Regions from separate parts of the Homo sapiens genome. Here region 1 is linked to region 2. The links come from fine-mapping of genetic effects on gene expression. A gene starts in region 2. The other region holds a variant in brackets. All regions are shown on one strand. Distances are between the middles of the regions.

Region 1 (5,388 bases), 160 kb after region 2:
TCAGCTGATTGGTCTATTTCTCCATAAAACCATAAGCTGGTTCCATGTTGTACCACCAATACCTACTATGGACTTGATATGCTAGAGTTATTGTTGAGTATAGTTACCCATGAATACTGTTTCTGTCAACAAAATACTTAAGCTGTTTGATGAAGAATTTGAAACCCCAATGAAGTCAAGAAACTTCTAAATTGGTTGTTTAAAAAATATTCAACAGCTTGAGTAAAGTGAATTTAATCTTTTAATTTTTCTTAATAGTTAGCTTCAAAAAAATGTCTGTTTATAGATGTAGCCCAAGAGCATTTTCTTGGCATCTTGGCTCACTGCCTGGAGCCATCTCAACACTTTGCCTAAGGAAATATAATGATTTTTCAAGCAATGGACACACTGATAGGTCTGAAGACATGGTTGAAATGGTGGTTTTTCATATAAGCGTTTTGTAACTGTGACTGTCACAAATAATCTGATTTGGTTCAATTGCCCAAAACAAGCAGCATATTTCTATTGCTCTATACCCTAAAGTCCTCATTATTTTATATTTTTAAGCATAGTGAGAATATAAATAGAAACTTCAGAAATGTTATGCTAATACAAAAGAGAGATCTATATAGGCAAAATAAGTAAAAGAATGGATCACCATATACATTGGCTCTCCAGAGATAATTATGTCCTCAGGTAACAGTGATTTGGAATTCAGCACACCTGAATTGTCCAGATAACTGCTACAATTCTTCCTTTTCACTGTGTTAATGTAAGAATGGCCTAAGAATAATTTTTAAACAAAGCAAATTGAGATTAAGCCTAAATAACAAGGTAAAATTCTACTTTTTAAATTAATGGCAGAACTATATTTATTTATAATTTATACTTTGTTTTACATTCTGCAAAGTGGGAACAATCTAAAAACACTTCAGGGGAGCTTTCTACAAAAGATCATTATTTTCTGATTCAAAGTCAATTTTTCAGAGCAATTTTAATTACTAAAGAGGTATCTCAGAATTAAGCATAGGCAAACTTGGCAAAATATACCCTCTATATTGTTCTTCCCTTTCTTCTTCCTGGACATGAATGCATTCACGCTCTCTGTGCCTCACTTGTGGAATCCAGTGATAAAAAAGTTTCTTACTTAGTATTATGTGTATCAATGGTATGGAAAAGCTCGTGTAATTCTTCTCCACTGAGAACACCATCTGCAAAATATGCTTTGAATTCTTCAAAGGATAATTTTCCATCATCTGAAATGGCAAGAACAAAGAGACACAAATTATTTTAATTTTGTACATTGTTCTGTTTTTGCTTTATAAAACTTCACCCAAACGCTTGTTCATGTACACACGTGTACTCAAAAAGAAAGAACAGCTGAAGGTGTTAAAAAGAAAAATAATTTAATATATCTTTATATAACATAGAACACAGATGTGTACACTCTAATAAAATATAAGTCTACAAGGTTCTAGGTATTTTTTGGTTCATTTATTCACATGACAAACATTTAACATTTAATGAACCATTTAACAGGCCATACAAGAAAGATGTCCACATAACCAAATAAAGAGCTCAACACAGAGTCAATTATTTAGATGTTTTACCTTCATGGTACCAAACACATATAGGACCTAGCAGATTGCAGGATAAATATGATGTGTTTAATAAATGTATATCAGAGTTGTTATTATAGTCTAACAAACTATGTCCATTCCTATGCCCTTTAAATCAGTGAGTACCTTTAAAGCCAAAGACATTTTACTTACTGTAGGGCACAAAGGTGAAACCCAATCAGAGAGATAACATATAATAAAAGAGATCATAAAAGAGATAATATATACAGACATTATAAGTATTTTATACAGTAAAATACGGTTAATGCAATAAGAGACAGAGGTATTTTAACTGTATGGGAGTTTTGGGTAACAAAAGATTCTTTCCATTTGAGGGCCTGAGGGGTTTTAGTAGCATTCACCCCTGACTTTGGACAACAGGTAAAATCTAGATCAGCAGAGATGGAAGAAACACATTAATAACAGGCAAAAGATTTGTACAAAATGCAGCAGCAGCAAACCTAGAGAAACGAATGGATGAGAAAAGAGAGGGAAGCATCTTTCTCTCTGTGCAGGGAGCTAGTTTTTCAGTTATCTCAGATAAGCTGCCAAATAACTGTAAAAGATAGTAAGATCCCTTCCATCTACAATGAGAAAACTGAGGTTTAAGGAGGATGGAATTTGTCCAGGGTCACGAAACTCCTATAATGTACTTCTACCAACAACTCTATACTGAACAAAGTGGAATTTGTCTTTGAGTAGAAGAATGTTTGATTTAATAGAAAGAGCTCCTCTAGATTCATCTAGAACATTTTGTTTCCCCAAAATATGGCCCACACATTGCCTGGAGCACTGCTGAAATGCAGATTCCTAGGCCCCACAAGCGAATTAGAATCTCACAGAGGGCATGGAGGGGTGGGTAGACAAGAAATTTGAATTTTTATTATAAAGGATAAAATAAGCCTAATCATAGAATTACTTATTTTTTTCAGATAAGGACTTACAGACTACAACATTTTAAAAAATCCTTATTTGCAAAAAATATAAGTATAAATAGTCCTGGAAGGTTTTAAATTGTATTTCATTTTGCTTTTTAACACAAAAGGCACAATAATCTAATTTTCCAGTTAATTTTTGCTAACGTTTAACTGGGCAGACACAGCCTTAGAGGTAGAATAAATCCAGATCTGAATCAAGCACAGATCTAGGGACCCGATCTTCTGGGTCCTCCTGGGCCAAGCCAGCTTAGCGATTCAGGTGACATAACAACCCATTGCAAAATGAAGTTCAATCCCCAGGCTCATCAATTTCCTAATTTTGTGTTTCTGTTTTTGAATGAGGTAGTTTTATGCCTCATATGACTATTTTAAACTTAGCCCCATGTAACCTGATGGATATGCTAGACAAGACATAGTGTGGTATTTCTACTGTGTATCTCCTTGCTTTGATGAAAAATGTATTGCCAGGTTGAAAAACTGGACACAAATCAGACTGAGGTTAAAGAGCGAAAAAGAAAGACCTTTTCATGTACTGTTTAAAAAAAAAA[AT/T]AAAGAAAAAAGAAAAAACAGAAATCGACCTGCTATTTCCATCTCCAACACTATGATATGTAGTGAATGTAATACGAATACATTGATGATGGAATATGTTTTCCTTGGTGAATGGTTAATATTTCTCAGGTGAGTGGAAACAGGCTATTACTGCACTTGGGTTGCCTGTGCACCCTGTGGATAGGGTGGGCCCCTGTAATACTGCTTTATAATTATGATAAGTAAGTGATTTCAAATAATAATGTGCATTCTATCAAATAAAAGCATCGATTAATAAGGGCTCTGATGATTCTCTGGGGCTAAAAGACTTTTATTTAGAAAAAAATCCTCTTATTAGAAAAAAATATATAAAAAGAAAAAGGAAGCATTAGCTTATAGTCTTGGCTTGAAGGGTGGAAAGTATGCTTTGAAAACCTGTTGTGACCACATGCAGTATTCCTGAAAGACTTCACTTTAGGTGGCCACACTTTTAAATAAGCAATTGCAAAGAGTTACTTTTGAAGAGTTGTAGACTAGAGCCTTAATGTTAAACAAAAGTATTACATTTTTTAAAGGAAAGGGAAAAATATTCCCTTGTAGTATGATTCTGTATTTATAAAGCAATTATAAATTTGTATTAGAAACATTTTATTCAAACTTCAACTTTCCTGTTGATATTTTCTTTTGAAATGGAACAACAGAGTTAACCTTTGATTTATACTGGTTTGGCTCACAGAATAGCCAAATCTTGTGAGGTCTGATTTCCTATGGTAATAAATTTGAACTTTTACCACCAAAGGGTACAGGTTTTTCAGCTTTTTCAACTGGAATTACATGCTTTGTCCAAGTTTATCCTGAAAATAGTTGGCCCTCCTCTGCTTTACTTAAAAATTATCCTGGCCTTATGTTCCAAATTCCAATAATTTTTTGAGATGGAGGCAGCAGAGTGCAGTTGCTTAGACCACAGTCTTGGGATAAAAAAATCTTTAGTTTTTAACACGTTTTGCCATTTGCTAGTAGGGCACTTTATCCACTCTTTCATCAAATGTTTATCAAGGTCCTAGTATGTGCCAAAAAACTGTGTTTTGTATTAAGAACATAGGTAGACAAGCTTTTATGGATCTTATAATTATGACACAGTAAATGGTACGATATAATAAGGGGGATTCTACGAGACACAGGGCGATGTGAGAGCATTTTGAAAAAAGAAAAAAAAAAGTCTAGCTATAAAGGGATAGGGAAGGTTTCCCAGAAGAAGTGGCACTTGTGATGAGACACAGATGAAAAATAGGGGTTAGTGAAGGAAGATCTTTAAAGAGAAAGAGTACTCCAGGCAGAGGGAATGCAAATGACAAGGCTAGGAGGCAAGAAAAGACTTGGGTTGGAAACTGAAAAGAAAAATCACTATACTTAGCCAAAGGGTATATATTTGGAGGATAGAAGGAAGAGTCAGAGTTAGATATGAAGAGGAAATATGAGAAACCATCAAAATTGTGATAAAGAGATTTTAATTTACCCCAAGAGTGCTCAGGAGCCACAGTCATATTTTGGAAACCTTAGTGTGGATAAGACTTGCTTTCCAAACTGAGCAACAGATGGATGGTATCACCATTCATTGCTAGAAAGAACACTGAGCAAAAGCATGGAGTGAGCCAAGAGTGTTCTTCTGGATATGTTGAGATTGGGGGTACCTGTGGAGTAAGTAGAGGCATCTAGTGCACAGTAGTAGAATCACAGGGGTCTAGAAAAGTCAATGGGCGATGGGGGCTTGAGGTGTATGCTTGGGAGTTACCAATACCAAGTAATTGACTTAGAAGTGAGTGAGTTCTCCCAGGGAGAATGCCTACAACAAGGAAGAAAAGGGTCCAGAAAGAATGTTGGAAGTACCAACTAATTCCTTTAAGTTTCAGATTTCGTAAATGCCTGGCTATTGAGAGGATTAAGAGAAAGGCTATATAGAAAACAATTAACACAGCACCTAGCACATAGTAAGAGTTCAACAATGGTAGATATGGATTTACTAGTTCACTCTTGCTAAGTGAAGATCATTTATGTGTTTTTAATTTCCATTTTCTACTATTCCTTGAAAAATATTTATTGAGTACACACAGAAAATGGGTATTTAAGGTATGTTTAATGACAGACTTTTTTTTTAGGTAATCAGGTTTGTAAATCTTAAAACTAGTGCTTCTTAAAAAAAAAAAAAAAGACTATTTAAACAGTAATTTAATGTCTCCTTCAAGCTGCATCCACAAACATGACAACAACTAGAGCTCTGATCTGAGTATTGCCCCTCCCCCACAGCAATTTTAATCCTGTTTTTG
Region 2 (5,388 bases):
TGTGAACCCTATTGTAAACTGCACATGCGAGGGATCTAGGTCGTGTGCTCCTTATAAGAATCTAATGCCTGATGATCTGAGGTGAAACAGTTTCATCCCAAAACCATACCCCGCCCTTCCAGTCATCCACGAAACCAGCCCCTGGTGCTAACAATGTTGGGGACCACTGTTTTAACACATTCCTATAATAATTATGAGCATCTGTGTTGTGTGTTTGTTAGTGTATCCTTCATAAAATGCTTCGTAAATGTTTGAGGAATAAATGAATAAAAGGCGACTATTGGCAGGAGGTTGGCAAGGAAATCATTTGGTAAACATGAGATAATGCTACCTCTTCAGCTTTCTGAGTTGCCAGGCTTTCAGTGGCACCACCCAGATTTAACAATTAATTTACTGAGTTGAAATTGTCTGTTTGCATATCTGCACCCTCACTAAACAGCACATACCATGAGATCAAGTAACCAGTTTGTATGTGTGTGTGTGTAGTTCTAGGTACTGTGAAAGTGGAGTTAAATAAAATATGAAAATATAAGTTTAAATAAAACCTCTACTTATAAGTAGTAAGACACATTATAAATTATTATCCTTCTAACTGGGATATCTATTTCCACTGTTGCTTTTTCTCAATCCATTCTCCAATTCTTTGAGTGGCCAGAGCAGGGCAGGAAGCAGGGATGGGGGGCGGTGACCAAAGTAAATATTTACTTAGAATAAGAAAATCAGTGACAACAAATTACAGATTTTTAAAAAGATGATAAATACCACAAATATTTTAGAAATTCAGTAAAATGATATTTTAAATTAACTACCTGAACCATTGCTATGTTTTTCCTATATTTTTAGTTTTCATTTTTTTATTGCCTCATCATTTGACAGTAATTTTGTAATGCACTTTCCCTGGTGATAATGAATAATGTGGTAGTCTTTTCAAAGCAAAGTTAGTCAACATGTATTTTTTGTTATTGAAAGCTTAAAAAAGTTATTGCAGTTTCACAATTTGTTATTGGTAATAATGCCAATTTTTAGTATTGCTAAATTTGGGGAAACTCATCTTAAGGTTCTTAGGTGAACTCTGTGATTTCAGGGCACTTCAAGTTTTCTCAGGCAGTGACTAACCTTTAAGTTGCTAAAAGTCATTAACCTGTTTGTTGTCAAGTTCTTGTTGTAAAGGTATGAATTCTAGATTATCCTTGTAGATGCCAAAATTTTATGTCATTATCAATAAGATTTTGAAAAGTTTCGATATGTTTATATGGTTCATTTTTCTTCCTCAATTATCAAAAAATCAAGGAGTCTGTCTAGTCTAATTTCTCTCTTCCTCTCAATAAATTACTAATACTGATCTGAATTGGAATTCTTCCAATTTACATTTTTGTCACAATAGTTTCTACTGACTTCATACAGTGATATGCACAAAATAATTTTATTGTAAGATGTATATAAAATTATACATGCTTCATTGTTAAGTATATTCCTGAAGAAGAAAACTTCTGTTGTGACTAGATGGATGAGAACCACATCCTGCACTTAAGATTTTCTACATCTGGTGGTTGGAATATATTGATTCCACTGTGCAGACTTCTGGTGCCTCACCCCAAGGGATGCCCTTTTATCATGACCCATCTCTGACCCTGGACCCTAGGTCTCTGATGCCAGGCGAGTTGTCTCAGTGGATAGTAGGAGTGTTTCTGGAAGCCATTTCTAAACGGAGACAGCTCCAATAACTTGACTATACATGGAAGTGCTTGTGAAACTTCATACCTTCCAAAATGGTAAATCCTGATAGTGCCCCACTTAAAACCGTTCAGTGTTTGCCAGTGCATTTTCAACTGTCCTTTTGGTGCTTGGGGACGTGAGGGACTGCCACCTCCACGTCCCTCAGTACAAGCAGACAGTCCCCCTCTGGGGACACTCAAAGATAATGAAAAATTAGCAAAAGGATTGAAGGTGAAGATTAAAAAGAAATGATTCGGATGGAGTTGCCTTAATTCATTTTGTTCCTTTCAGGATGGCAGTCTGTGTGAAACGCTGTATCCCTGGTCTGAGGTAAACCAGGTCTCAAACATCTTCCTCCCTGCCAACCCGAATCCCGACACCCACTAAATGCACCAAGGGGAAAGCAGCGCCTGCCAGCAGCTCTGACGGGGGACAGGAGTAGGGTGGACTCAGTCGTCAGCACGACGGCGGCCTCCCTCACAGAGGCGGCCTCCCTCACAGACGCTGCCTGGAACCCGCCGCCAAGCCCCCAGCAGGCGGCCCGCCTGGCGCCTCCCAGTCTTCGCACAAGCAGGGCCACGGTCTGGGGCCCCCAAGGCCGTTCACGCGGGCGCGCCCCGTCGAGGGCTAGCCTGTCAGCGCCTCACTCGCGGCCTCCTACCCTAGACGACCGGCTCTGGGTGGCGCCGCTCCAACCCCACGCGCCCAGCTCGCCCGGGAAAGCGCGCGCCACCCTTTTAACGGTTCTACCCCGGCAGGGGTGCGGCTGCTCTCGAGGCTCAGCGCCCGAGGCCACGCCCCGCGCCCGCCCTGGGCCCGCCTCGTGCCCCTCGGAGCCGCCTCCCGCCCCGCCCCCCGCCCCTCGCCCCCCGCCCCTCGCCCCCCGCCGCCGCCACCGCGGTCAGCCAGCGGACCAGCGGCAGGAGCCGTTCCCCGACGGGCAGCAGGGCGCTCGGCCTCCGCGTGTGGGCTGAGCGCGGCGACGCTGCTGCCCCGAAATCCCCGTGGATTTTGAGTCGGTAAGTGGCTAGGGAGGATGAGCGACACTGGGGGACGGAAGTCGGGCCCCGTGGTGTGGAGGAGGCGGGTGGGCGCCGTCTCCCAGGCCCGACCCCGGGAAAGTTGAGGCGAGGAAGAGAAGCTCTGAGGTGGGTCGGGAAATCTCTCAGGGCCCCTTCAGTACCCTGTGGACCCTGAATGGGAGTGGGATGGGAGCGAGAGCGTCGGATGAGGGGAAAGAAAGTGTAGGGGGCCAGGGGAGCCCGACGGAGGGGCAAGTGGCCGAGACCAAAGCCATCGCCAAAAAAGGAGCTAAGTACACAGCTCCCCTTGGCTCTGCCCCAGCACCTGGTGCCAGGCGGTGGGAGGCTTTCAAGACGATTTGCCCCCTCCACCCGGTGGCACAAGGTTTTCATTGCTGGTGTTTTAGTCAAAGCTACGGAAAGGACAGTTACATGACTAAAGTAATCACAGACACCTATTACCTGGACAGCTTTAGCCCATCCGAATGTTAAATTGTGTTTTGTTTTGAGAAATCCCTCAAATAGACCAAAAAAAAAATTAAATTAGTTATAAAGAGAAGGCATGAAATGGAAGATATGTTGGAACTCTCCAAGCTTCTAGTTTTTTGATATTTTCGTTTTAATTTTTCCTTAATAGTGCAACCAGATATATGGAACGTGAAATGTCTTTCACCACTTGAGTCATAGGTGGTTTATTTCTTACTCCCCGATGTTTCCTGTATGTTTCTCTTCATCTATCATTTTGTCAGTGTGAGCAGTTTACTTACAAGCAGTATTGGGTTTCAAGGAATCCTAACTTTGTAATGTTTTGAAGTTGGAAATTGAGATGAAATTTTATCTGGTTATCATATGGGAATTATACACAAGGTAAATTCAAATATGGTCTTTTCATTTCATTATTTCACTTTATATGATCTTATTTCTCAACGGCAGCGGTAGCATCAGTACTTTCCAAAGAAGACTAGAATTTATATTGGAGTTTAAGTATAGTACTCAGCTTCTAAAAACAGTGCATAGTATATTTCATATGCTGTGATCTATGGTTAGTATGGCAGTATACCATGTCTGTAGCGTGAGGAAAGCACAGTACTCCCTAATTTATTTAGTATTCTAAGAAAAATGGTAAATTGAAGAAATGGATATTATTAGCATATACCAATTTATTCTGCATGGCCTTATAAATAAATGTTACTTTTCACATTAATTTTTAAATCTATACACGCAGTGTCCACATGTAATAAATGGACAGTCAGATATCTTTCTTTTATGTAACAAATAGGCAAGTTTTGATATAAAGGTGTGAACTTTGTAGTCAAATCCTAATATCTAGCACTTAGTAGCTATGTGGACTTGGGCATGTCTCTTATTTTTCTGAGCCTCAGGTTTCTTATCTGTGAAGTGGGACTAATAATAATTTTCTTCCACCGTTCATATATGGCTCAAAATTAAATGAAATTATATTTAGTATGTAGTAGGACCTTAAAAAGGCATCTTAATTAAAAAATAAGATTAATAAGATTTTGGCCAAAGTGGTCAATGTATCTGCTTATTATCCCATTGTATTTTAGACAATTCTAGGTTTACTGGTAATATCAGGACTGATAAGGCCTGAAGATTCATACTTAGGTAAATTTTTTAAAAAGAAAAGGAACCTAAGATATAGTTAGTATTGCCAGGTGTAGAATAGCAACTGTAAATAACTAACTGATTTACCAATATTCTATTCATACAACTTGGTCTTTAAAGATGATTTGTTAAGTGTGTGTGATCTTGAAAAAAACTATTCAGCAACCATTTCTCAGTATGTATTAATAGAAAGTTTTTTTGGAGACATTGGATCAAAATATCCTTTAAAAAACATTTATACCACAAAACTATACATTTACATTTTTAAATTTACATTTTACAACCTTATGATAGGCCCACTACTTGCTACCCAATGTTGTAGGCAGAATTCTGTTTATTTTGTAACTGTGCTTTGAATCGTTGATATGATACATGGCTACTCTAGGTAGCACCAGTAGCTTCAAGGGAAACTTTTTGATCTCTACATTCCATGGATGAAGCAGGCATTAGAGTTTAAGACTGAATTTGTTTTGTATAATGACTTTGTAGTGCAGTTAAGTCTTTATTATTTTTAACTAAACTGAGAATTAGGTTTTGGTTTATGGAGTTCTGCCTTAATTATAATCTCGTGACTCAGTTTTACAATAATAATTACTTTTTATAAATACTTAACCTTTTTCATTAATAACATGATGGTGGAATGTACTATGCATTGTAATCCCAAACTTGTCCCCTATAATGTCAGTGTTTCCCTGCAGGCATCGTTTACTTTAAAAAAAAATATTAAACAGAGTACTGAATGACACCATCTTTTCTAATTTCCTTAACTGATGTGGATTTATATACAGGGAGCCATTGCTGTATCTTTCCTACTGTAAATTGAAGGGTAGGTGGCACCAAAAGAGCTTTGATTTTTTGTTTATTTACTTGTGTTGCAAAGTCATATAATGGAGTTCTGTAATCCCCAACTCTTGAAAATCCCTAGTTTGAATACTGTGGATTTGCCTTGCTCAGCGATTGGAAAAGACTTAACAACCTACAACTAAATTTCAGCTGAGCAATGAAAAACAACGAAGTGTGTGCC

The links. PIP is the estimated chance that this variant, and not a neighbour inherited with it, causes the effect.
Region 1: its variant is the best candidate, but not a certain one, in a credible set for the expression of C8orf88 in whole blood (INTERVAL, PIP 0.57).

Annotation. Positions count from the first base shown.
Region 1 is chr8:90,820,564-90,825,951 of GRCh38, reverse strand. It overlaps NECAB1 (N-terminal EF-hand calcium binding protein 1), which reads right to left. Exons shown (of 13, transcript NM_022351.5): 3 at 1,127-1,235. All of the region lies in intron 1 of LOC105375635 (a long non-coding RNA gene), which reads left to right. Among named protein-coding and RNA genes, the nearest start is that of NECAB1, 31 kb to the right of the region's middle. The variant AT/T (reference allele first, on the strand shown) is at 3,085.
Region 2 is chr8:90,982,461-90,987,848 of GRCh38, reverse strand. It overlaps C8orf88 (chromosome 8 open reading frame 88), which reads left to right and starts at 2,611. Exons shown (of 6, transcript NM_001190972.2): 1 at 2,611-2,735. RefSeq lists a silencer at 2,428-2,587.